Linked DNA regions of Homo sapiens. The protein of the gene in region 3 purifies or fractionates together with the protein of the main gene of each other region. This does not show direct contact. Each region holds a gene or a part of one and is shown on either strand. Other genes may lie near its edges.

Region 1 (3,149 bases), on a different chromosome or scaffold from region 3:
AGCCTGAAGGTCAGGCAGAGGTGACAGCATAGGGCCCTCTCAAGTCTTTTTAAGCACATGCCCAGCCCTAGGCATGTGTATGGTCTTTCAGATTCCCAGGAATATGTGGAATCTCTTTAAAGTCCTTATTCTCACCCAAAGAATCTTATTTCCTAGCCTTTCCTCCTGAAGCTTTTCAATTTGTCTCCTGTTTGCTCCAAATGTTATTCCTTCCCCTAGGCATGAGCCACTAATACACTGACCTTGAAACGTCTTTCCAGGCTGCCATCTTCACTTTAGGAGAGCTCCAAATTAGGCAAAATAAAAGAAAGGCATTTGAACCAGTCCTTCAGGGAGCAACAAATCAAATCAAAATCAACATACTTCTTGAAAATAAGGTCTAATCTGCTACCTCCAGTGACAGGAACCTATACAGGGAATGAGGGATATTGTTTTTGATGCTGCTGCCATGCTGGGGAGTGGGGGATGGGGCCAGGGTAAGCTAAAACACAACAAAGCTCTCTTACTAAATCCAGCTTTTATTCTTAGGTATTCACCTGATTGCTGTAAACTTTCAATTCGTTTCCAGAGTTCCCATAAATTTGAGTTTTTGCCACCTTATTTGCTGCTTTTGTGGAAGGACAGACTTGTGGAATTTCCTATTCCATTTCGTTGACCACATTAAAGTTTTAGAAGCTCTCCTCTAGTCTACCCTTCATTTTAAAAAGTCAAAAAGACAGGAAGTGACATATCCAGGGTCACACAACAAATCAGGGGCTGAGCTGAGATCAGAATAAGGATGTTTGACTCTCAGGTCAGAGCTCTTTCTGCTTCAGGACTTCATCAGCTCTTAGTGTTGAGAAGGAGTCAGGCTCAAGCTAAACACCAATATTAGGCCAAGGGGCAGCTTTCCAAGGAGTAGGGGCTGAGGGTAAGAGTCCTTGGTATACCTGGTGGGCTTGACTGACTCCTTTACTGACAGGGGACCCTACATGAGTCCAGGTTGTGGACTGAGTAATGATGTCCCTATCCCTTAGAAAAACACAGGCAGAGAGCTTTCAGATTTGATGGGGGTGAAAATGTAAACCTTTATCTTTCTGAGGACATGTATTTAGCTTGATGTTTCTAGGTCTCATTCCACTCCATCTCGGCCAGGGCAGGAAAGAGCCTACAGCAGAAATAAGGAGCCAGGTCCTAAGGTAGGGCTGTAACTCCCTGCCAAGGCCAACAGAAAATGGGCATGGCATGGCATTAAACCACCACTTTGACCGTGGGCACCTGCAAAGGTTCATCTTTCAGCTCCCTCTTCCCAAAGCTAGGAGTGCCTCATCTCATCTCTCATCACCTGACTGAATTCCAAGCAGACTGTGCCATCTGCTCACCTGCCCTCTGGAGGAACACCTCTACTTTTGCGGTGTTCTCTGTGTGAGCACAGTAGTATTTAGATAAGCGTTAGATTACAGCAGGTTACAGATGCAGTTTCCCAGTCCCCACACCTGCTCAAAATGCATGAGGGTCTGACCGCAGGAACTGCTCTTTAGCAAGCTCCCCTGATGATCCTGATACACACTCAGGCTTGAAAACCACCACTTTAGGACCATCTACCCAGCCACAGGGTGAGCACTCCAAGGTTTCTTTCTTAAATTTTGCACCTGAGACAAATGCCACCAGGACTAGGGTGAGGCGAGTGAGGCTATCTGTCTCAGGTGCAAAACTATTTAATAGTGTTTCCTCCAGCGCCCCCACAGCTGCTGAAAATTCTCTCAGGGCTGAATTCATCTGGTGCTTCTATTTTAGAAGTCAGACTAGATGTGTAGCATGGACTGGCCTTGACTAACATATCCAGGAGGCAGGAGAAGACCCATTGTGTTCTATCCCAGAAAGATGACCTGTAAGGTTGCACATCTTTCTCCCTATCTTTTTTGTCCTAAGCATAATAAACAGTGTTGATCCCAACCTCCCACTGACCTTGGAAGGCAGTAGGTGCCTTTGCCTCTGGGAAGATCATGAGGCATTCATGCAGTCCTCCAGCCCATACTTAACATGGGTTGGATCTCTTGGGAGTGACCATGAGGGCAGCGAGAGGAACAGGAAGGCAGGGAGAAACAGGACTAGGACAAACACAGGTGTCAGGTCCACAACTATGCCAAATGTCATGCCCAGGGTCAGGTTCCAGCCCATGCTGAGGTTCGAGGGGACTGGGTGGATGGGCGATAGCTGAAAGAAAACCTGGCGGGCCATAGGCAGGTAAAATGTAGTTTTATTCAGCAGCTATCTCATCAGCAGCTCTCACACTGTCCACCTTTACCTAGGCTGTCTTCTCCAGATCTGCAGCTCCTCTCAGCAGCCAGCTCTGTGGCTCCTGCCACCCCCATGCTTGCAGGTGCACTCCCTGGCTACAGGGTCAGCGGCTTAACTCTCCCTCTGGGCACAAGCTGAGCCATGTCCTGGCTCCCCTCTATCTATCTGCCAGATGGTCACTCTCCCTTACAGGGGTCAATAGCTTCACTCTCTCTGGGTGCTAGTGCACACCACGTGGAGCCATGCCCATCCGAGCCCAAGAACATCTGTACAGCGTCAGCAGGGCAGTTATACCTTTTCCAAACAATAGTGGCTTTGAGCCAAGTATGAACTTACACAAGCAGGTTATATAACAAGTGGAGTATACGCCTGTGACCTAAACTCGCTGAGTCACTCTGGCCTGGATATCCACCTTGGTCTATTCCTTGACCAAAGCACATCCATGTACTTTACAACAGGTGGTCTCCAAGTGTGTAGACCAGGGTCTCAAACCCAAAGGCCTGCAGGAGCCAAATGGGTGACATGGGCTTAGTGTAATACAAGACGGAGCCTATAGCAAATAAGGAGTACAGGCCTAAAGGGGCAGCTGCAACTCAGCTCCAGCCATGCAGGAATGCAAGCCCCATAGTGCCAGAATTTCTGAGTTTTCAAGAGAAGCCAGAATTCCAGATTTTTAAAAATATGAAATCTCTCAATGTTTAAATGTTGGCAACAAATTCAAATGTCTAAAAACACTTTGGAAACCAAAGTAAATGTGTCTGTAGGTGCAATATTGCCTGCTGGGCACCAGGCTGGGAACTTTGGAGTAAACAGGGCAAGGTAATGTCACAGAATATGGTCACATCAGAGCACATTGGTTCTAGGCCCCA
Region 2 (3,500 bases), on a different chromosome or scaffold from region 3:
ACGGGAGCTCACTATGTTGCCCAGGTTGATCTTGAACTCCTGGGATCAAGCAATCCTCCTGCCTCAGCCTCCCAAATCACTGGGATTACAGGCATGAGCCACTGCACCCAGCCAGCTCTCTGCTTTTTGTTGCCTCAGTTATTCTCTCTGTAAGATGGGAAGAATCCTCCTGGCCTTATCCCAACTCTCCAGCTGGACTGGGGGAAGAACTATAAAAGCTGAGCAAGAGGTTTTTATGATTTTTGTTTTTTCTGCTGCTACCACCCACCATGGGCATGAGACGGTTTGGTTTCCTGGCAGCAGAGCTGTGTAGGAGGTTCAGTCTGTTCCCCTACCACACCTAAAACTCTTTCAACCAAACCTGCCTCAGGCTGGGAAGATACAGAATTTTCAACAGAGGGGGGAGATTCACTCGGGCTGGTCACTGGAGCTTAGCAGTGCAGATTAAATCACCCCAAGACCACAGACACTGTGTTCCCAGGAGTTGCATGGTCTTTGGTCCCTAAAAATCTGAGGGCTGGCAGACTCTGGACAGTTTCTGCGGGTCTCCAGCCAGCATGACACTGGCTTGTACCCCAGGGCCTGGAGCTGCTGCCTATATATGCTCTATATAGTAGGCATAGGCAGGTTTTAGTATCAAAATATTGTACCTGGCTGATATTTGTGAATTTGGATTGGTGAAGTGGTTCTTAGCATTGGCTGTGCTAGAGTCAAACTCTCCTAGACAGGAAGGAGCTTGGGTATTTTAAAAAAAAAAAAAAAGAGCCAAATTACTGGTGGCTCAACAGCTGAAAACAATGGGAGCAGAAGTGAAATGGTGGCTGGGGTAAAGCCAAGAATCCATTTAAGGGGTGACTCTACAGAGATGCATTTACTTATTAAGTCACGACTTAGCTGTAGGGGAAGGTGGGGGAAAGACACATAGTTCTGCCCTCACAGTGTTCAGTATAATCAGGACAGGGTATGTGCATTCAGGCCTTCCTGCCCGCCACACGTGCTGTTTCCTCTGCATGGAATGTCCTTCTACCCTTTCTTTGTCCCCTCTCCTGCTGTACTTCAATGTATCACCTCCATGGGGTAATAACATACTCTTAACGTGTATAAGGCACTTTATGGTTTAAAAAGCCCTCTCGGCCGGGCGCAGTGGCTCATGCCTGTAATCCCAGCACTTTGGGAGGCCGAGGTGGGTGGATCATCTGAGGTCAGGAGTTCGAGACCAGCCTGGCCAACATGGTGAAACCCTATCTCTACTAAAAATACAAAAAATTAGCTGGGTGTGGTGTCGGGCGCCTGTTGTCCTAGCTTCTCAGGAGGCTGAGGCGGAAGAATCACTTGAACCCGGGAGGCGGAGGTTGCAGTGATCCAAGATTGCGCCACTGTACTCTAGCCTAGGCAACAGGGTGAGACTCTGTCTCAAACAGAAAAGCCTTCTCAAGTACTTAGTTCATTTCACTCCCACCATAACCAGGCAGGGCAAGAATGTCACTTAGCTGTTCAGACACGAGGGCAGGAACCAGGGTCTCGATTTCTGGCCTGGGGCAGAGCCATCCTCTGGCTCCTGCTGAACCCCCTGCAGTACTATGCATGCACTGTGTGCTCCTAATGCAGGAATTTGAGGCGGGGTGTTGTGGGGTGCAATGGATGGGTTTTTTCTGCCTCTTTAGTGTAGACCACTAGGGTTATGGCGAAATCTTACCTAGTGTTGAGATACATCTTTATCCTTCCTTCCCTCTCCTGCCAGCAAATTGGAAGGAGGTTTTACTGAAACATATCAGCCCTGACCAGGTGCCTGTGGAGTATGGGGGCACCATGACTGACCCTGATGGAAACCCCAAGTGCAAATCCAAGGTATGAGCCGCCAGAGGCTAGAGGTGAACAGGGATGCCTGGCTCAAATGCACATTCCAGTTCACTCCATGCCATGCTTCTAGATCAACTACGGGGGTGACATCCCCAGGAAGTATTATGTGCGAGACCAGGTGAAACAGCAGTATGAACACAGCGTGCAGATTTCCCGTGGCTCCTCCCACCAAGTGGAGTATGAGATCCTCTTCCCTGGCTGTGTCCTCAGGTAGGGGCCTGGGCCCTTCCAGGAGACCCGAGCTTTCATCTATAGGTCCTGATAGGTGGGCTGGAATAGGAGAAGCCCTGGTGCCAGGACCCCGGAGAGGGCACACACAGACAGAATTATGTCTCAATTGGTGATATCCCCTGCAGGTGGCAGTTTATGTCAGATGGAGCGGATGTTGGTTTTGGGATTTTCCTGAAGACCAAGATGGGAGAGAGGCAGCGGGCAGGGGAGATGACAGAGGTGCTGCCCAACCAGAGGTACAACTCCCACCTGGTCCCTGAAGATGGGACCCTCACCTGCAGTGATCCTGGCATCTGTAAGTATCTCTGCCTTGGCAATGCCTTGAAGCCCCATGTCCAGCTTTCTGCCTGTGAGGTTCCTCTTCCTCCATGGATTTTTGGCTCTGAGTGTTAGAACTAGAAGTGGAATGCCATCAGTTCAATCCTCTCCTTGTATAGATGAAGAAATCTAGCCTTGGAGACTTGTTTATGGTGACCCAACTGGTTAACAGCAGGGTGGGACTTTGATCTCATACTCCTAGGTATGGGTGAGTCACAGTCCTAGGCGATCACAGGGGTTCAACACGTCTGCTTTCTGGTCCAGGTCTAACTGGGTCTGTGACTGGACAGATATTTCTTGGGGATGCTCCTTCCCAGAGGTCACAGAGACAGAACTGGCTGGGTGGGCATGGGATCACAAGGTAAGCAGATGCTCAAAAGTGCAGCCTTCACCCCTGAGTTTCACTCATCTCCCAGCTGACCAAAGAATGGACACAGACTATGAGCAGGCAGTTTACACAAGAATATAAGAATGGGAAACAGACATTTGAAAAGGTGCTTAATCTCTCTTAACTTTGTAATACCATTAAAATTCCCCTTGACTCAGCAATTCTACTTGTGAAAATTTATCCTACAGAAATACACAAATACTCAAAGATACAGGAACAAGGATATTCCCGGTAGCCTGGGAAACTGGCAGTAAACCATATGACCATGATAAGGTCTGTTAAGTAAATTACAGTCCATCCATACAATGTTAAAGAGAATAAACTGACATGTAAACTGTCTGGGACATGTTAAACAAATAAGCATGAAACACAGCATGTATGGTATGTACTTACTTTGGTTAAGGAAGTGTGTACACAGAAAAGAACTCTGGGGAAATTTATGCTAACTCTAACAGTGGTTATCTCTGGGATGATAGGATGTTTATGGAGGGCTTTCATTTTTACAGTATTTCTGCAAATATATTTTATGATGACTACGTATTAATATTACATTTATAAGCAGAAAAACCATACCTACACTCCCTTCAACACCCACAATCAAATCTCCAGTTTCTTTTTGTCAGAGCCAATGGAAAATCAATCAGAGCAAAGGCTTTATCATCAGAGCTGAGCTGGACTTGACTAAAGGCTAGCTCCATGGCCT
Region 3 (3,500 bases):
AGTGTTCTTATAACAATAGCAACAAAAAAATCCCAAACCGCCCCCAAAACCAAAGAGGCACAATGATTAAACTCACGAAACTGTGAGCGTTAAATATGTACAGCTTTTGCTGATCAATTATACCTCAATAAAGCTATTTAAAACATACAAAGAACAGGTAGACTTCTTCTGGTGCCACCAGCTCTGTCATTAGCCGTGTGACCTTCGGCAAATCCCTTACCCTTTATGGGTTTCAGTTTTATCATTCTGAAAATAAGTAACAAGCCTCTACTACCACTGTGTACCCCTCATGCTGGAAGACTGTGACGTGGGGACCCTGCTGAAAAGCAAATCTTTCATGGGTAGATCTTAGCAGTGCAGCAAGGATTTTGGAGTGGACCAGAGATCAGAGGGATGAGAAACTCTGAATATGCAGCATTTATGATGCACCTGCTAGGTGCAGGATGGCGAGAAAGCCTGACACGGGCCTGCTGATGGCAAGGTAACCAACACCCCCAGCCTGCATGTGGGAGGGAGGCAGAGGGGCCCAGAGGATGGGAGTAACTGAAAAGGTGATGGGGCTGGGCGCGGCCTGTCATCCCAGAACTGAGAGGCCGAGGTGGGTGGATCGCTGAGGCAGGCAGATTCCTTGAGGCCAGGAATCAAGACCAGCCTGGCCAACATGATGAAACCCTGTCTGTACTAAAAATCACACCTGTCATCCCAGAACTTTGAGCGGCCGAGTTGATTGGATCACTTGAGCCCAGGGGTTTGAGACCAGCCTGGTTAACATGGTAAAACCCTATCTCTACTAAAAACACAAAAATCAGCCAGGTGTGGTGGTGCATGCCCGTAATATCAGGTACTCAGGAGGCTGAGGCACAAGGATTGCTTGAACCTGGGAGGCAGAGGTTGCAGTGAGCCAAGATTGCACCACTGCACTCCAGCCTGGGCAACAGAGCGAGACTCTGTCTCAGAAAAAAAAAAAAAAAAAAAAAAAAAGAGAAAGAAAAGGAGCTGGCCCAAAGCTGGGTGGTGATGAGCCTCCTCTTGGGCCTTTGATGGCAGCAACGCCTCTCTGACCTCCTGGGGATCCACCTTGCCCCACGGAGAGGACACCTGGGGGCATTTCTTCTATGTATTCCTCCTGCTGGCCCTGGCCTTTAACACTGGGCTCTGCTCTCAGTTCTCAGTTTAGATTTGGCCCTGAACTCGAGATTTCTGACATCCCTTGGGGGCAGCTCCAAGCACCCGCCGTGTGTGATGCCTGGGACTCACTTGGCCTCTTTGCTGTTGCTGGTGTCCTCTCCTGTTTCAGGCTCATGAGATCATTCCCTATCCTCCCATCGTTCATGGCCCCTCGTGTTCAACTTAGAATGAATGCCTCGGGTGGACAAATACAGTGGAAAAATGAGGTTGAAACAGCCAGAGCTTTGAAACGCAGAGGGTTTGACAGTGGCACCGGGGACTGGTATTCTGGAAGGCACATAGGGTGGCCAACGTTTAATTCCAAAGCCAAGGTGAAAAGGTTCAACTAACATGCAGTGTGATCCTTGCCTCCACAGAGGCGTCGGGGGTCTGAGCTTAGAGGGGAAGGTGGCTCAATCACCCACCTCTCCAGGACAGAAGCCACTGCTCAGTTTGAGCAGGGCGGGTGGGTAAAGTGTAGGTACAGGAAAAACAGCCCAGTTGTCAATTTCCCCCATCAAGCGCAAATGCAACAATGAAGGTGCACAAACACTTCTCTACTTACTGGCATAGTTTTGTCTCCAAAGAAATAAATGGTCTTATAACCGTCATTTTCCACATGTCGCAGACAGTATCTCTTGTCCCATCCATCAGGAAAGACATCAAAGCTGATCTGGCCTCCTGCCGGGTGGGGACGGGGCACACAAAGGCAAAAGGTGAAAAAGGGGCTAATGATATGTCACTGAAAAAAACAATTTACTCTTTTGTCAGTTAGTGGGTTGCCAAGGTTGATTTTCAGTACTCTAGTTTGCTACTTAGACTACTTCATGCATAGGTTCTAGAAATTAATTCTACATTGTTTTTTTCCAGCATTATTTCACATAGGTCTAAAATTGAGGCACAGAATGCCAACTCAGAGTGAGAAATGCATTTGCGTTTAAGCGCCCTGTCAAGCGTGTGGTTTAAAGGAAGCATGCTTATGAAAAATCGGATACCAGCCTCATTCTGCTGTGCTTGTCTCGGGCTTTAACACACCCTCAGGGGGAAATGCCCGGAAGCAGGTTGCATCCGGCATATTTTGCGGGAAAAATGAGAATCTTCACTGAAGGTGATTTACAGGCAGTGCTCACGGGCAACAAAAACCCTTTCAAAGCTTTGTCAGAAAGATGTCCATCTCACAGTTCAGGAAGACAAAAAACCCACCCACTCATCTGTTAAATATAATCCCTTTGCCATTCCAGTTTTCCTACAACCTCTACCTTGATGAAAGCTAGTAAAATGAGGAGGCTTTGAGCAATGACTCATTAGCACTGACAAGAGAAATCGGTGTGCAAAGCATTTGGCAGGAATATTCTAACAAAAGACAAGCCTGAGATGTCCGTGCTGCAGGAAGAACTCTGCATTAGACACCAGAAACGTTCACACACTGGCTGTGTAAACAACAGCTTTGTGAACTTGGACAAGTCTCTTCTCCTTTCTGGGCCTCAGTTTCTTGATCTGTAAAAGCCACCCAATTGGCCCCTAAGGTTCCTTGCTGTTGAAACATTCTATGATTCCAAAACATCGGTCTAGTTTACCTAAGGGGTTCAATTCCATGTCTCCCTTATGGAGTTCACTATAGTGCTTCTCTTCTGCCCAAAGGTGTGAGAAGTTCCTACTCTTTAGTAATCAAAGTGCTCCTCTTTTGATGAGAGGAGTCCAGGTAGGAAGAATGCTGTTGGGTAAGAATTTAGAACCAAGCCCAACAGCGTGTAAGCTGTTTCTTGACTAGGCAAGTCCTATTATGGCTAATTATGCAGAAAAGAGAGTGGTTGGTTTTTGTCTATAGACTGGACTGCTCATTTAATCTTCCTGCCCACCTAAAACTGCACATACTTCATTATCAATAGCTCACTGGCCCACAACAAACTCTGGGAAATGGGTATCCAAGTTTGGAACACAGGCAATATATACAATACCTATGGAAAACGTGAGGCCTTTTCCAGCAAACTCTTTCCGTAGATCTGCTACAAACTTTTGTCTTATATTTTCTTTCTGAGAAAAACAAAAAGATACCAATTGTTTCTTGTATTGCAGTTTAGAAAGCACAGTTTTAACTACTGGCCACAAAGGTAGGATTATCTTATTGATTTATTTATTTGTTTAGTTTTTGAGATGGGGGTCTTGCTCTGTTGCCCAGGCTGGAGCGCAGTGGCATGATCATAGCTCACAGCAGCTTCAACCTCCCAGGCACAAGTGATCCTCTTACCTCAGCCAAACAAATAGCCGGGACCACAGGTGTGTGCCACCATGCCCAGCTAATTTTTTTTTTTATTATTTGTAGAGATGAGGTC
Region 4 (3,500 bases), on a different chromosome or scaffold from region 3:
CTCACCACACTATGATTTATAAAGAAACAATTGCCTCCTTAATCCTCGGCGTCATGCAAAGAGCTGGCATTGCATGTTTCCCTCATAGGTGAGTGGTTAAAATCCTACGATGCTAATAAGTTTACCTTGTGGTTTGCCATTATTTAGAAACTCAGATATTCAAAACTGCAGGCCAGGCCAGGCTATGGATCTTGCTGTTGAGCCTCCAAATTCTCATGTAATTTCACAGTTGAGATTTGATCCTTGCTTCCTCGATCAAAACTATGATGATTTTTTCTAGCTAATACAGATAGCTACATAGCTACTGCTTATTGATGTTTTCCTATGCACAAGGCATTGTACAAGTGCTTTATTGCATAATGTCAGTCAGTTCTGCTAACAATCCTATGAGGTAAATGTTTTTTAATTTCCCCATTTCAAAGATGATGATACTGAAGCTTGCCCATGATTTCTTGTGTCCATGAGATAGCAGAGCCAGAATTCAAACCTGGGCTCTCTGACAGCAAAGAATAGAGCCTTAACTAGTCTGCCAACCCATTCTTGAGCCAGGAGGCTTAGTTTCCTTCACCTACACCGTGAGTGTGCTGTTGAATCATAATGGTGACTAGGTGATGAGGATGAAGAGGAGGTGGGGGAGGAGGTGAGGAGGAGGAAGATGACTCAGGACTGTGTAGGACAGAAGGATAGGAGAGTCAGTGTGAATGGAAGGGACCCGGGTGAGTCCCCCCCCCACCCCACAAAGTGCAGGAAGTGTGTGGGAGGAGGAAGAAGCCAGGAGGTCTGTGGGAGGTGAGGATTCTGAGAGCTTTCCTGTCTTCATGCTACTGAGGATGCTTTACTTGTCTCTCCCCTTTTTACAAAGAACACAAAGGTAAACTTTACTCGTCAGAGGTGCTCACAGCAAGTGTGGAGGAGTGTAGGGAGAAATAGTCCCTGATGTACAGAGTCGGAGGAGGTATACACCACCTGCCCCAGACCCGTGTGTTAGACTCCTCTAAAGAAAGAGGGAGGCCTGGAGGGATGAGTGTGGTCGCCTGAGCCAGGGCCGTGGACCAGTCAGCTCCAGGGCAACAAGACAGACACTAAGACTCCCAGCCCTAGGGTAGAAAAATGGGGCTTTAAAGGAAATAAGGAAGGAGGTCCACTCCAAGGGCACCTGGGCTGACAGGTAGCAGGAAGAACTGTAGGTAGGTCATGCAGTAGGTAGGGTTGAACAGGAGAGCTGTCAATAGGAAAGCAGGTGCTTCAGAGTTTCCAAATGGCCCCAAGAGGCCCCAGGGTCTGGTGGCTGACTCTATGGAATGGCCAAAGTCCAGGGAGATTCATTATAAGTTGGAGGGGATATCTGATATTCCCCAGGATCACTGTCTGAAGCTTAGGCCAATGCTGGTCACCATACAACAGGGCAGGAGGTACAAAAGTGGGTCGCTTTGAGCAGAGAAGCAGGAAGAGGGAGGGGAAGGCTGACAGTACTGCAGAGCAGACTGAGCAAGTGAGGCTGGGGTCCTTTCTGCAAGAACTGGTTGTTGCTCATGTGTTTTGGCATAAGAAAGCTGAAATCAAAGGAATGCTGCGGGGCAGGGTTGGCACGTGTTATGTGTCTATGTGCATGTGAGGGGGTACATGTTTGTGCACACAGCTATTAGACTAGCTGTTTGCTTAGCTTAGTCCCACATTCTCCCTACTATTCTCTACCTTGACTGTGGTTTTAATGCTGTCCTCACATATCAACTTACATTAATTCTGGATTCCCTGCACCTTGGTTGTGGTGTCTGTGGCCACTGTGGCTCCAGCCCTCCTTGCCTAGGAGCTTCTTTTCCTCCTCTGCAAGTATTTCATGCCCAACCTCTCACTCTCCCATCTCCCCTACTCAGTGTCTTCTCCCAAGTAGGGCTCTGCTTGCCCACAGCTGCCCTCTGACTCTTCAGGCTGCCTGGATGTTGCAAACCCGTAAGTCTGGAGGAGCCCAGGCTTGCCAAATGCATTCTTGTTTAGGCTTCAATCACTTCTATAGGCTGAGGCCCCAGATGTACCACTATCCTTAATCCCCCCAGGTGAAATACTTCAGATAGACTGCAGGGTAATTGGAATACAAGATTGAAGGCTTTAAAATGAAACCCAAAGCTAAATGGTCCAGAAAAACAACACAATCACAGGGACATTATAGATAAAGCTACTGAAGTCCCCCTAGCAGGGAGCTGGGGTGACCACTTGCTTTCAGTGATGGAGAAGAAGTAGGGTGGCTTAGAGGAATGGAAGGGGCCTGGGAAGTCTTCTCTTGGAAAACAGAAGGTGAATGGCCTGGCAGATTACTTTTGGATTTGCCATGGGTGCCCTGGAAAGGGCAGGGGTGGGGCCATCTCAGCTGTCTATGATTCAGAAGAAAGTACTCTGCAGGTAAGACTTCAGCATCTTTTCTGTGGACAGAAAGTGGGAAAGGAAGAAAAGGCAGAGCAAGAAAGGTGGGGGGCGGGGGGTGTGTGTAAGAGAGAGAGAGAACATATTAGAGCAAGTGAGTGTGCTGGTGTAGTATCAGGACAGAAAGACTGCAATACAAGCTTATCCTGGAAAGTATTACAGGAGAGTACAGGCTCCTGAGTCAGAAATTAGACTGCCTGGCCAAACCTGTGCTCTACCACTTATCAATTAACTTCTCTAAGCCTCGATTTTCTCAGTTGTAAAGTGGGGATAATCATATGTATTTCACAGGGTTGATATGGAAAGTAAACAAGATAGTTCATTAGAAGTGTTTAGCATGGTTCATGATGATAGTAGAAGATAATAAAAGTTGGTAATGTAGAAATTATTATTGTCATTGGCTTGTCTTTTCTAAGATTAACAGAAAATAAGGGAGGGAAAAGTAAGTCTGGAAAGACACTCACTCTGTCTTAGAACAAATGGACTTAGTGGCCACATACAGGAGCTGGTGTTGCGGGGGCGGGGGAGGTTGCCTGAATGACCTTTGCCCTCTCTGACAGCTGTGGAGCTTGTACCTCATCAGATATTCTCTAATACAAATGACCAGGCTTTAGGCATCACTTTATTGACATTTTTTTCCACTTTGTGATCATTACCCTCTTGATGTCTTTCCCCATAATTTACTGCTTTACTAATTCCAGACACAGAAGACCCCACTACACTGGAAAGAGCATGAGTTTTGGAGTCAGGTGGATGGGTTCAAATCTCTTTTGCTACATACTAACTGTGTGACCTTGTTTAAATTGCCTAGTTTCTCAGAGCCTCAGTTCCCTTCTCGGTAAACAGTTCTAATGCCTCTCTTTTGTAGAATTTTTGTAAGGATTAACTATGTAAAGAAGCTAGCACAGTGCCTGGCTACCAGACACCTAATAAATGTTGGCTTTCCCCCCCACACTATTAGTCATTCAGCAACTGATCTTTTTGGTTCATTTGTATAACCACTTGATGTGCATTAAACGTATAAAATTCTAGAATGTCAGAGCAGGCAAGACTCACAGATCGATCAGTCTCATGGCTCTTCT
Region 5 (3,773 bases), on a different chromosome or scaffold from region 3:
GCCAATATTTTCCAAGCAGAGATGGGATTGACTCCCTTCTCCTAACCTCCCCCATAGCTTCTTTCAATTATTTCTCCTTGGTGGGTGCCCTGACCACCCCTCTCACAGGGATGCCTCCTCCCCAGGCTCCAGGAGCTCTGACCCTTGCGCTGCTGTAGGGAGCCTGTGGATTGCTGGTCATCCTGTCAATATCGCTTACCTTCCAGAGTTCATGCTGTGCGAGTTCTTCCTGAAAGAGCTAAAGAGGCACTAACTGATCCACACCTGTCACCTGCTCCTTCTCTAGAGGCTGAAAACTCTACTGCAGTCCCACTATAGTATGTCTATAAATGATTATTATTCCCCCACTCCTAACTTACAGGCAAATCACACAGTTTTTAGCCCTGTTGAGCCAGAAGAAAGCACACACACACACACACACACACACACACACTTCTGAGCCAGAAGAAAACACACACTACAGAACAGAGTAGGTAAAGAATCTTTGAGAAAACATTCAATTATTTCAAAATGATAAAAATTTATTGTCTTTCTGGCCTATGGACTCAGCTGTAGTTGACTGAAGTCGCTAAACAGGACGGATTTAAGTAGAGGTGATATGTCCAGTCACCGGCATAGAGACGTCCTCTGCGTCACCATCCACACACAGGGCTTCTGGTAGACATCAGGCAAAGCCCTCCATGTTAATATTCATCTGAATATGGATAATTAGGGTGGCTAGCAAAACTGAAAAGAGAATAATGTATAATATAAATGCAATGACTCCATTACTAGGGGAGTAGTAAAGTGATTTCAATGAAGCTGTCATTAGTATGAATGTTAAGTTGTCTGACTAGTTGTAGAATCTGCCTTTCTTACCTTTATGAACATGGCTTCATAATACAGTATTTTCAAAATAATAAATTATTCAATCATATTCCCTTATCTGGAAGTTAACACGTAAAACACACAAAGTCAAATATTCAAGTATATTCCTGTACATCTGTCAGCAGAGCAGAGATACTCTGATTATACTTTCTTTTGTTACTTTACTTATTACCTGCTACTGTCTACTGTATGCAATATATTTTGTAAGATTCAGAAATGTAAATTGTTATATATGATATAGGGTCTAATATCCAAGGAGCTACAGTGCATTAAAAATTCTTATATAGAAATAACATGAAATATAAAGGAACAGATAAACACCAACTTATTACATTTTTAATGGATGATAAGAATTACTCATGCTCGCTACTCTTCCTTTCTTTTACATGGTTTCCTTTTTTTATTTATTTTCCTTGAAACTAAAAAAATATTAACAATGATATCTACCAATTTTTAAGCACTTATGAAGGGCCACTGTACTTATGCTTTTTCACACACTATCTCACCCTATCACTTGTTAAAATTTCCACTGCCAGCAGTTACATAACTTCCTGCTTTTTTTTTTTGAGATGGAGCCTCACTCTGTCATTCAGGCTGGAGTGCAGTGGTGTGATCTCAGCTCACTGCTGCATCCTTTGCCTCCTGGGTTCAAGCGATTCTCCTGCCTCAGCCTTCCAAGTAGCTGGGATTACAGGTAAGTGTCACCATGCCTGGCTAATTTTTATATTTTTAGTAGAGACAGGGTTTCACCATGTTGGCCAGGCTGGTCTCGAACTCCTGACCTCAGTCGATCTGCCCACCTCAGCCTCCCAAAGTGCTGGGATTATAGGCGTGAGCCACTGCGCCCGGCCATAACTTCCTGCTTTTCCTGCATTTACATGAATGACCGTCTATGAATCCTAGAACCTTAGACCATGAAGGAATAGTAAAGATCTTTTATCAGCTACAAATTATATACAACAATGGAGCTTCTGCCTCCACACTCACACTCCTTGATTTTAAATTTTTTTAAATTCTCTGCCTTGAGAGCTCCATATTGCAGGAAATCAAGGACAAGCGCTCCTATTCACTCCACTAAGGAAGGCTTTCTGGAGGCAAAAGCAGAGTTTGGGGCATGAACAAACATGCAAGGAGAAGGAGGAAAAACATTTGAAATAATAAAAGATGCTGAATTGACAGGATCTAGCAAGCAATTCCATATGAAGGAGGTGGGAATTGGCACCTGGACCACAAAGTTGATGGAAATGTTTTTGATTTGATAAGGAGCTGAGCAGGTTTGGGACAATGTGATATAAGCACAGATTTGGAAACATCTAATGAAGTCACATGGGCAGTATCCACAGCATGTCCAGTGGTAGAAACACCAGGCCTATATGGAACGTGCAGACTTGGCAATGATGTTGGCTGCTCTGGAAAGTTCCATGGAGTCAGGAGAGCAGAGGCACAGGTTGACCCATGCTGATCCCTGCCCACTCACCCTGCCAGAGAACAGAGCTCTGGAGTGAATCCAGCAGGAGAGTTCCAGTCTCACCTCTGACTCACATTGGCCTCTGTCCCTCTGGTATGGAGGTCACTCTCAACACCCATCCTACATTCCTTCTCCAGAAATAAATTAGATCACCCATTTACAAAGGAAACTTACCTATCACTGTTAAAATAGTGGAGATTTCTGTCTAGGCCATCTATGGCTTTCATGTCCTCTGCAGTCAACTGGAACTCAAAAACCTATCAGAAATAAAAAACTTTTATTATTTTTAGATTGCCAGTTGTGAATCCCCAAGTATATTAGACAGTAGGGTGCAGAGACAATACTTAAAATATTGGTAAGTTTTAAACAGTTATAGAAGTCAGCTCTAAACACTCAGGTGGGTCAATGAATAGCTCACGAAAAATAAGCAGAAATCCATTCCTAGATATTATGTATTGAAACTGTGCAACTCTGCAGACAAAGAGAAAATTTCAACAGAAAATGGAGAAGAAACAGCGCTGACATTGTGCCCACATGATAGGGTCACATTGTGCCCACATGATAGGGTCATGTACCTAGAAGGCCCACAAGAATCTAGAGGCAAATTTTTAAATAACAAGATTATATATTAAGTTTGATAGATATTGTTGAATTTCTATATCTCTTTAATAAACAGGTATAATGCAAACAACATTTGTTTTCAACATAATTCAAGGCAGGAATTGTCTAATTACTAACAATTTCATGTCTAAAGGAAACAGATACAGGCTTGAAGTGTATCTTACTCTCTAAATTTGAGAGACTTTAAATATCAAGAGGATGCCACTAATTGCTAACACATGGAATTGAATAAATCTATAAATTGACTAAATCACTCTAATAGTGATACAGAGAATGAGAGAGAGAGAATAAAAAACATGAACAAGTTAACAATTAGTCTAGGTAAAAGGTGTTCATTACATTTTTCTTTTAACATTTCTACACATTAGAAAATCCACAAAACAAAAAGGAAAACGTTATCAAGAGGTTCTAATAATTTTCAGTATTCTATGGATAAATATTTAAAAATACATATGGTTTAATGGAGAATGTTATAAAATTAATGATATATATATTAAAAGGCCATTTAAATAGTTGGAAATTCATCATAGGTTGAAAGTCTCAATATTGTCAAAAAGTTCTCTTCACAGTGAACTGCAGTTTCAATACAATATCAACCAAAGACTAAAATATGTACTCTTTCATGGATGTTGATGTTTCAAAATTTCATATAACAGAATAGTCAGTCAAGAATAATCAAGATATTATCAAATAAAATAAAGAGTTAGAAAAAAAGTTGTACCATTCTGGTAGCAAGACCTTTCATTATTTAGACAGTACAGAAAAGTAAATAAGTCAATTGAAGACAAAAGAGAGGCAAGAATATTATTTGTGAATG
Region 6 (3,500 bases), on a different chromosome or scaffold from region 3:
GCTTTTTGTCATTAGCTCCCAAACCCCCTTGGCAAGAAATCTATGAGGAATAACAGAAGATGCTGTGTGGCCCCCTCATGGCCTTTCTTGCCCAGACACAGGATGCCGCTATGGGCTGGATGCAGTGTGGGTGCCGTCCTTTGCTTTGGGAGTTTTACTGGTCCACAGAATTCAAAATCTGGGGTGGGGAGGGGCACTATAAAGGCCTTGAAGTCAGAGCCCACACATTATAAGCTTACGAGCTGTCAGAGAAAGAGGTCACATATTCAGGGGAGGGGCTGAGCTCTGCCCACCCGCTGGACATACCGACACTTGGTACTGCACGTCCGACGTCCACACCTCCTCATCCCCCACCACGCATGGGATGGCTTCCATCCGGCCCTTCAGGTCCTTCAAGGCCTGGGGAGAGGGACAAGAGTGGGTATGGTCACCGCCTTCCTCGCTTCCTCCCATCTAAAACCCTAACGCAGAGTCCACAGACGGAGGTGCCCAGGCAATACAGAAATGAGAAGGGGGCCAGGCCAGGTCGGTGGCCATCAGAGAACATGTGCTGCCCTCGGGGACAGCCGGACTCTGCTCCAGCCATTGTCACCCTGCAGGAAGGTGAGGTCTACCCATGACACAGAGATAAAAAAACTGCACCTGAAACTTATATGAAATCTCATGATTTTTAAAATGCTGGCAATTAACTGGAAAACATGTTTAACTATAAAACAACTAGGTTTATGACATCTGACCTGGCCTGAGAAGCCCCAGAGTAGCTCCAGGCTGCCACCTTGGTCCTCCCAGCTGTTCCCACACTCCAGACCCACAGCCCTCCCAGGCTTCCACCCAAGGCTGGGAGCAAGGGTAGAAGCGGGTGATGGCTGCAGGCACGGGGCGCTATCTCAGGGCTGCTGGGGATGGCCTCTGCTCCATGCCCTGCACCTCTCGGGTGCCTCCCACCCTCCCATTACCTTTTGCAGGGCATCTCGCTCAGGGCTGCCCTGCGTGAAGGCTAAGACGGGCTCGTTGGCCACCTTCAGGGAGGAGGTGTGCTTCCACCGCAGGCTGGAACACAAGGGCAGGGGACAGAGGCAGAGAGGTCAGCAGCGGCCCCACCACCAGACCCCAGCCCCTCTACCTCCGACAGGGGGTCCTAGGTGGGCACCCAGAGCCTGAAATCCAATGCAACTAGAAAGTGGGGGGTCAAAACCCCACCTTGGGCTGGGCATGGTGGCTCACACCTGTAATCCCAGCACTTTGGGAGACCAAGGCGGGCAAATCACTTGAGGTCAGGAGTTCGAGACCAGCCTGGCCAACACGGTGAAATCCCGTCTCTACTAAAAATATTTTAAACGTTAGCCAGGTGTGGTGGCATGTGTGCCTGTAGTCTGAGCTACTCAGGAGGCTGAGGCAAGAGAATTGCTTGAACCCAGGAGGCAGAGGTTGCAGTGAGCCGAGATCGTGCCACTGCACTCCAGCCTGGGTGAGAGAGCGAAAAACTCCATCTCAAAACAACAACAAAAACCCACCTTGGGGGTCCACAACCCAAGGTTCAAGTCCCAGTCCCACGGTTGTGTGTCCTTGAGCCTGTGAGTTGCCTCCTGTGAACGTGGTTCTACGTCTATCAAGTAAGAATAATCGCACCGAACTCACGCGGTTGTTTGAAGTTTAAACACACAGATGCAAAACCACGTTGAAGTATTTTCCACATGCAAAGCGTTACTCTCCCTTTCTTCTCCCACAAGGCAGGCTTTATCCCAAAAAGACCCAAACTCCTCTCTCTAAGCTGAAAGGGCAGCACATTCCAGAACACAGTCTCAGAATGTGAACCAGCTGAGATCCCCTTGGCACAAAGGGCTGAGAGCTCTGGCTGGGCAGGAATGTCCAAGATGTGGACCATGAACTTGGAGAGCTGCCCTGAGCTCAGCTCACAGCCCCGGGAGGGCTGGCCCTGGGGGTGAGGTGCCTGATTCCAGGACACTGAGTCTCAAGAACTCCTTGCTCAAATCCTCTGACCTCTTTCCACCACCCCCTACCACATCTGAGGGTCACAAGGTGGGAGGTCAGGTGGCTCAAAGCTAGGACGCTGGGGTCAGTCATTCCAGAGCTGGAGCCTCAGCCCTGCCACCTCCCAGCTGTGGGGCTTCCCCTTCAGGCCTGTTTCCCCCTCTGTAAATGAGAAGAATGATGATGACAAAGTCAACTAATGCCCAAAGGGCACTTGAAATTGACAAACTTCCCATCTACCGTGGCATAGGACGGGCCTCACCAGCCACCTCTCTACAGAAATAAGGTCATTTTGGTCCTAAAAGGAAAATGACTAGTTCAAGATCAAGAGTAGGGGAAACCTGCACTTGAGTCCAGAAGGCCCAGATACCATCTCTCTCTGGTGTCAATGGCCCCAGACAACCCGAACAGCTGGAAGTGCACAGGTGGGGTTCACTGGTCGGCGCAATGAGGGAAAACACACAGCGTAGGGAACCACAGGGCATCTCAGTAAGATGCTGTTAGGAAACCCATGGGGTTTGGCAGGGTGACTTGGGGAGGGTTTAAGGAAGCCACGGTTAGCTCTGGATTGGCTGCCATCAGAAAGTGGGGGTGAGGCTGACTGGGAAAAAAGGAACATTTACCAAGATGTGCAGAGCTTTGTGGGTGGCACAGAGACCTTGTTTTTGTCCGTGCTTAGACAAAAATCATGAAGAGAAGGCCCGGCATGGTGGCTCACACCTGTAATCACAGGACTTTGGGAGGCCAAGGTGGGCGGATCACTTGAGGTCAGGAGTGTGAGACCAGCCTGGCCAATATGGTAAAACCCCGTCTCTACTAAAAATACAAAAATTAGCTGGGCGTAGTGGCCCACTCCTGTACTCCCAGCTACTTGGGAGGCTGAGGCAGAAGAATCACATGAACCCGGGAGGCAGAGGTTGCAGTGAGCTGAGATCACGCCACTGCACTCCAGCCTGGATGACAGAGCAAGATTCCATCTCAAGGAAAAAAAAAAAAATCAGGAAGAGGGCTTATTGTGTCTCATCTGATCATGGTCTCAGAGGGACGTGGCCTGAGGCTAGTGTTCTGCGGGATTGTTTTTGCCCTATGGGAGACAGACTGGCCCGGCTATGAGTGTCGGGGGCCAGAAGGAGTCTGGGGCTCAAAGACCCAGCCTGGGAAGCCTGAAGGAAGGACACAAAACCAAAGGAGTGTGGCCAGGCCCTGTGTTCATTCCACTTGACTTGAGGTTGACTGAGGACCTGCTGGGTCTCTGGTGCCGTCTCAGACCCTGGAGATAAAGCAGTGACAGAGACAGCGAGGCCCCTGGCTGCACACAGGTGACCTTCAGTGTGAGGCCTGGTCAGGAAATAAGCAAGGTAACCGCAGATGGTGAGCATGGCAAACAAGGGGGAGAATAGGGCTGCTTCAGCCAGGGTGGTCAGGGAAGGCCTCTCTGAGGAGGTGACCCTGAGAGGGACTTAAAGGAGGCTTGAGAGGAGCTGGGAAGAGCATCCCAGGTAGAAGGA
Region 7 (4,243 bases), on a different chromosome or scaffold from region 3:
GGCTTTTCAATATTCAGACATTGGAGCCTGGGAATGGCACATGACTCCCGAGATACACAGTAAAGAACTACATAAAGTCCAGAGAAAGGCAACTTAACAACAGACTAAACAGACCAAGGATTAAGACTTTTTCATCCAGCTCAAGGGCCACAAGGTGGGCATGAACTTGAAACTGCAGGAGGTGTAAAAATTATACTTTAGCATTTATCAGTTTAAAATGTAGTGTTCCGTTCATTATTCATTCAGCAAAGCTGAGCACCCTGTGCTCTGTACTGTGCAAGAAGAGCACAAAGATGAAGGAGGCCCAGCTCCTCTCTCAAGGAGCTGTCTAGTTTATCTTTACAACCTTGTACATCCTTATTCCTTGTTGACAATTAGGGACATTACAGTTGAACTGTCGTTAAGAGCACAAGTGCACCAGCTGTAGTACTTTAAGCAAGTTATTTAATCTGTAAGGCTCAGCTTCCTCAAAGTAAAATGGGAATAGTAATATCTACCTTGTGGGATTTTGAAGATTAAGCGTGAAAATACGCAATAAAATGCTTAGCTTGATGCCTGGCACATGGTAAACATTCAACCATCATTATTAAGTGGTGTGCAAAGCATTTACAGCGTTAAGTTTAGGTACTCTATTTCATTTTTGTCCTCCCTCCAAACATTATAGCTCCTCTAATTTGCTTCTGTTCCTCGCGCCCTGCGCAAACCCTCCTAACAACTTTCAGGTACCATCTATCCCAGCCAATGTTAAGCCTTGTTCTTGCTCTGATCCGTTTGTCCTGTTTTCTCCTGTCTCTTCCTTTCTTTATCTCCTATTTTCTTCCTGCCCCTTCCCTCTCTTTTCTCCTCAGACTCCTCGTCTTTGGATTCTGCAGGCTCAGATTTGCTTTATGACTATGGAAAAACAAGTATTAACTGCCGAGTCTATTTTCAGATCTGAAAAATGGTAATAATACTATCTACTTATAGAATTGTTTTGTGGAGTAGATGAGATAAGAAAGTGCAAGCACTGTGTACATCGTACAGCGCCTTACAAAAATTCTTTACTGGCATCTCTAAACTACCCTCTTTCATTCTCTGCCTCCCCTTCCCGTCCCTGCCCAATTGTGAGACTAAGAAATTCTTCGAATTTAATATTAGGACATAACTCCAACCAGAGCGCAGCTTTTCTGGTTGTTCCCGCCTTCCATGCCTAAACGAACCAATCAGATCGCCCAGAGTGGCGCGGTATCGCCACTTGGAGACCACCGCGAATGAAGTTTGCATTTTCCTCTGTTCTTGAGCCCAGCTTCTTCTCGTCTCCCACCCCAGCTTCCCGGCATTGGAAGAAGGGACCGTCCTCTTCCTTGTCTTGGCCACCCAAATCCTGGTATCGAAAGGGTTGAACGGACCGGAAGTGTGCAGCAGCGACGGGTCCCCAGCTAATCGACGCCGGAAGTAGCAATTACTAGACAAGCATTCCGCCGCCGGCTTCGCTATGGCGGCAATTCCCCCAGATTCCTGGCAGCCACCCAACGTTTACTTGGAGACCAGGTGAGGGGGTTCGGGCGTCTGGGGCTGGCAGAGGAGACGCGGAGCCCGGGCCTCACCACGGGTCTGCGTTCCTGGCGCGTTCCTCCGGGAGGCCGGCCTCCACGTGGAGGGGCGTGGAGCAGCGGCCGAGACGGCCCCCAGAGGGTTGAGAGGGGACCGCCATCGCCCGCGTCCAAGCTCCGCGGGGTCTTGTGCTGAGGTCTCAGCAATAGCTGCCTGATTGTCCTCCTTCCCCCAGTCCGCTCATTCATTCATTCATTCATTCAACAAACGTGTAATGAGTCCGCAAGCCAGGCATATGGAATATGAGTTCTGAGGATACAGAGGTAGATAAAACACAGACAGCCCTGCCTTTAGGAGCTTACGGTATAATGAAAGAGACAGACATGTAAACATTACGTGATAAGTAATACAGTTGTAGAAACAAATTCCAGTAAAATACAGGAAGAAGCACATTTTCCCCACTATCAAAGAGTGATGTGGTAACCAACCTGCTGGCGCCATGCCCCGCTGTATGTCATCTCATTTAGTTTAATCTTAGCAACTCAAATCATGAAGGTATTATTTAACTTTCTCCCTTTCAATATTAGCAGGAGGAAACGCCGGAATTTACAGCTTAAAGCCTTGACCAAAGCCACACAGCTAGTAACTGGAAGAACCTCGTTTGGAGCCTGGTGTGCTCGTCTCACCTTGCTAGATCCTTTAGCTCTATTCATTCCATTGCCTCTTTGGAAAAAGCTCAAAGTGATCTTTACAAAGTAGGACAAGGAAGGGATCCTGCTCAAAAAACCTTTAATAACGTCTTGCTGCTATAACAGTATAAAGTAAAAACGTATTAATCCTGACATTCAAGGTGATTTTTTTCATCTGGCCCTTGTCTACCTGCCATTCTCCCCTCAACAGCCAGGGACCAGCCAAGGTCCTCTGCCTTTCTGTTCTTGCCCATTGCTGCTTTCAGCTAAAGCAGAGTTCTGTCAGTCCTCTCTCTATTTGCTCATGCTGTTCATTTCATGCTCCCTGGCCATCTTCCCCACCTTATATGGCAAAATTCTACATCTTCAGGCTCCAACCTGTAATTTCTGAATTCTCCTGTTGGTATTTTTTAAAGTTACAAAATAAATTGTTAAATCCAAGCAATGTAGACATACAGAGTAAGAAGTGAAAGTCACCTCCTTCCTGAAAACACCATCAACAGTTTGTTGGATGATTGTCCAGACTTTTTTCTATGTACATATAAACCTCTCTCATGTTTTTTTAACAAAAAAATGGGATCATATGATCATACTGTATGTATGTTTTTTCTGTAACTTGGTTTTCTTTCACTCAGTAATTCAGGTAGCTGCCCATAGTATGGATAGTTGATATTTTAGGCATTTCCTATTTCAAGGACATTTAAGTTGCTTCCTTTTTTTTTGGCTATGACAAATACTGAGATGAACATCCTTGCACATATTGTATCCTTAGGCACTTTTGTATATTTTCCTAGAGGATACTTGGAAGTTGAAATTACTGAGGTATGCACATTTCAGAATTGTATACGTACTTCCTGATTGTCTTTCCAAAAGGCTACTTTCTGTATTTTGAAAATATCCTCCAGAATGTAAGCTTCATGAGGGAAAGAGTACCACACACAGAGTAACTGTCAATCTGTGTTGAATGGGAGCAGTGTGAAAGATGAATTGGATGAATTTCAGGCAGAAAGGCTGTTAGCTATTTTCTAGCACACTCCTCATATACTTATAGAGTGTTTACACTGTGCAAGGCACTGGGTATCCAGACTATACAGAGTTGACTCAATTCTCACATCTGGCCAGGTGCCATAGCTCACATCTGTAATCCAGCACTTTGGGAGGCCAAGGCAGGTAGATTGCTTGAGCCCAGGAGTTCAAGACAAGCCCGGGCAACATGGTGAAACCCCATCTCTACAAAAAAATACAACAAATTAGCTGAGCTTGGTGATGCATGCCTGTAGTCCCAGCTACTCAGGAGGCTGAGGTGAGAGGATCACTTGAGCCCGGGAGGTGGAGGTTGCGATAAGCTGAGATTGTGCCACTGCACTGTAACCTGGGTGACAGAGGAGACCCTTTCTCAAAAAAAAAAAAATTGTCACATCCTTGGAGCTTAAAGTCTAGGTATGTGCTGGAGTAGAGGGGAAGGCACTCGTCCTTTCTCTTGCCTCTTCCTTATCTTTTAGTAGTACTGGTGAGGAAAAAGCACTCATCCTATTGGGTAGGTGCAAAGATTCAAAGTTACCAGGTTTTGCCTTTGTTATACTCCCTCCCAAACAAACACAAACTGTACCTTTTATTGAAATTTTTTGAATAGGTAATGTATTTACATGGATCAAAAATACAAAAGTTTTTAAAAGGTATTCATTAAACATCTTCCTATTTTCCATCTACCCAGTCCCTACCCCCACCCAGAAACTTCTAAATAAATATGAACTCCTGATATTTTAATGTCTCTTTTTTTAAAAAATTAAAAATTAAGTGTAAGAATTTTTTTCCTAATTTAGGGGTTGGTTATATTGGTTTCAGATAATCAGATATAGCTATATATATATACATATGTATATATGTATAGTATTAGAATTTTGAGTTCTCCATGCTTGTTATTTTGCTGAAAAGAAGTACCCAGAACACCTGCGTGTTTTACTCAAAAAAGATAATGGGTGTTTATGTTACTTGCATTGTGGTGTTTTCCTTTGCTGAGC

Evidence for each region.
Region 1: the proteins of PMM2 (region 3) and ANXA11 fractionate together in Homo sapiens (co-fractionation; one large-scale study listed by BioGRID). This does not show direct contact.
Region 2: the proteins of PMM2 (region 3) and SEC14L2 fractionate together in Homo sapiens (co-fractionation; one large-scale study listed by BioGRID). This does not show direct contact.
Region 4: the proteins of PMM2 (region 3) and TAGLN3 fractionate together in Homo sapiens (co-fractionation; one large-scale study listed by BioGRID). This does not show direct contact.
Region 5: the proteins of PMM2 (region 3) and AKR1C3 fractionate together in Homo sapiens (co-fractionation; one large-scale study listed by BioGRID). This does not show direct contact.
Region 6: the proteins of PMM2 (region 3) and ALDH4A1 fractionate together in Homo sapiens (co-fractionation; one large-scale study listed by BioGRID). This does not show direct contact.
Region 7: the proteins of PMM2 (region 3) and PPIL1 fractionate together in Homo sapiens (co-fractionation; one large-scale study listed by BioGRID). This does not show direct contact.

The regions. Positions count from the first base shown.
Region 1 is NC_000010.11:80,150,389-80,153,537, forward strand, and holds the end of ANXA11 (annexin A11), read right to left. Parts: 3' UTR 501-3,149; downstream 1-500. UniProt on the Homo sapiens protein: Binds specifically to calcyclin in a calcium-dependent manner. Required for midbody formation and completion of the terminal phase of cytokinesis.
Region 2 is NC_000022.11:30,414,018-30,417,517, forward strand, and holds part of SEC14L2 (SEC14-like protein 2), read left to right. Parts: intron 1-1,741; coding exon 1,742-1,848; intron 1,849-1,930; coding exon 1,931-2,070; intron 2,071-2,216; coding exon 2,217-2,386; coding exon of another isoform or gene 2,387-2,484; exon of another isoform or gene 2,485-2,958; intron 2,959-3,500. UniProt on the Homo sapiens protein: Carrier protein. Binds to some hydrophobic molecules and promotes their transfer between the different cellular sites. Binds with high affinity to alpha-tocopherol. Also binds with a weaker affinity to other tocopherols and to tocotrienols.
Region 3 is NC_000016.10:8,811,339-8,814,838, reverse strand, and holds part of PMM2 (phosphomannomutase 2), read right to left. Parts: intron 3,202-3,500; coding exon 3,126-3,201; intron 1,849-3,125; coding exon 1,733-1,848; intron 1-1,732. UniProt on the Homo sapiens protein: Involved in the synthesis of the GDP-mannose and dolichol-phosphate-mannose required for a number of critical mannosyl transfer reactions.
Region 4 is NC_000003.12:112,001,922-112,005,421, forward strand, and holds part of TAGLN3 (transgelin-3), read left to right. Parts: intron 1-3,500.
Region 5 is NC_000010.11:5,104,414-5,108,186, reverse strand, and holds the end of AKR1C3 (aldo-keto reductase family 1 member C3), read right to left. Parts: intron 2,593-3,773; coding exon 2,510-2,592; intron 727-2,509; coding exon 684-726; 3' UTR 501-683; downstream 1-500. UniProt on the Homo sapiens protein: Cytosolic aldo-keto reductase that catalyzes the NADH and NADPH-dependent reduction of ketosteroids to hydroxysteroids.
Region 6 is NC_000001.11:18,889,056-18,892,555, forward strand, and holds part of ALDH4A1 (delta-1-pyrroline-5-carboxylate dehydrogenase, mitochondrial isoform a precursor), read right to left. Parts: intron 1,837-3,500; exon of another isoform or gene 1,639-1,836; intron 1,051-1,638; coding exon 957-1,050; intron 400-956; coding exon 307-399; intron 1-306. UniProt on the Homo sapiens protein: Irreversible conversion of delta-1-pyrroline-5-carboxylate (P5C), derived either from proline or ornithine, to glutamate. This is a necessary step in the pathway interconnecting the urea and tricarboxylic acid cycles.
Region 7 is NC_000006.12:36,872,004-36,876,246, reverse strand, and holds the start of PPIL1 (peptidyl-prolyl cis-trans isomerase-like 1), read left to right. Parts: upstream 1-1,443; 5' UTR 1,444-1,474; coding exon 1,475-1,530; intron 1,531-4,243. UniProt on the Homo sapiens protein: Involved in pre-mRNA splicing as component of the spliceosome. PPIases accelerate the folding of proteins. Catalyzes the cis-trans isomerization of proline imidic peptide bonds in oligopeptides. Catalyzes prolyl peptide bond isomerization in CDC40/PRP17.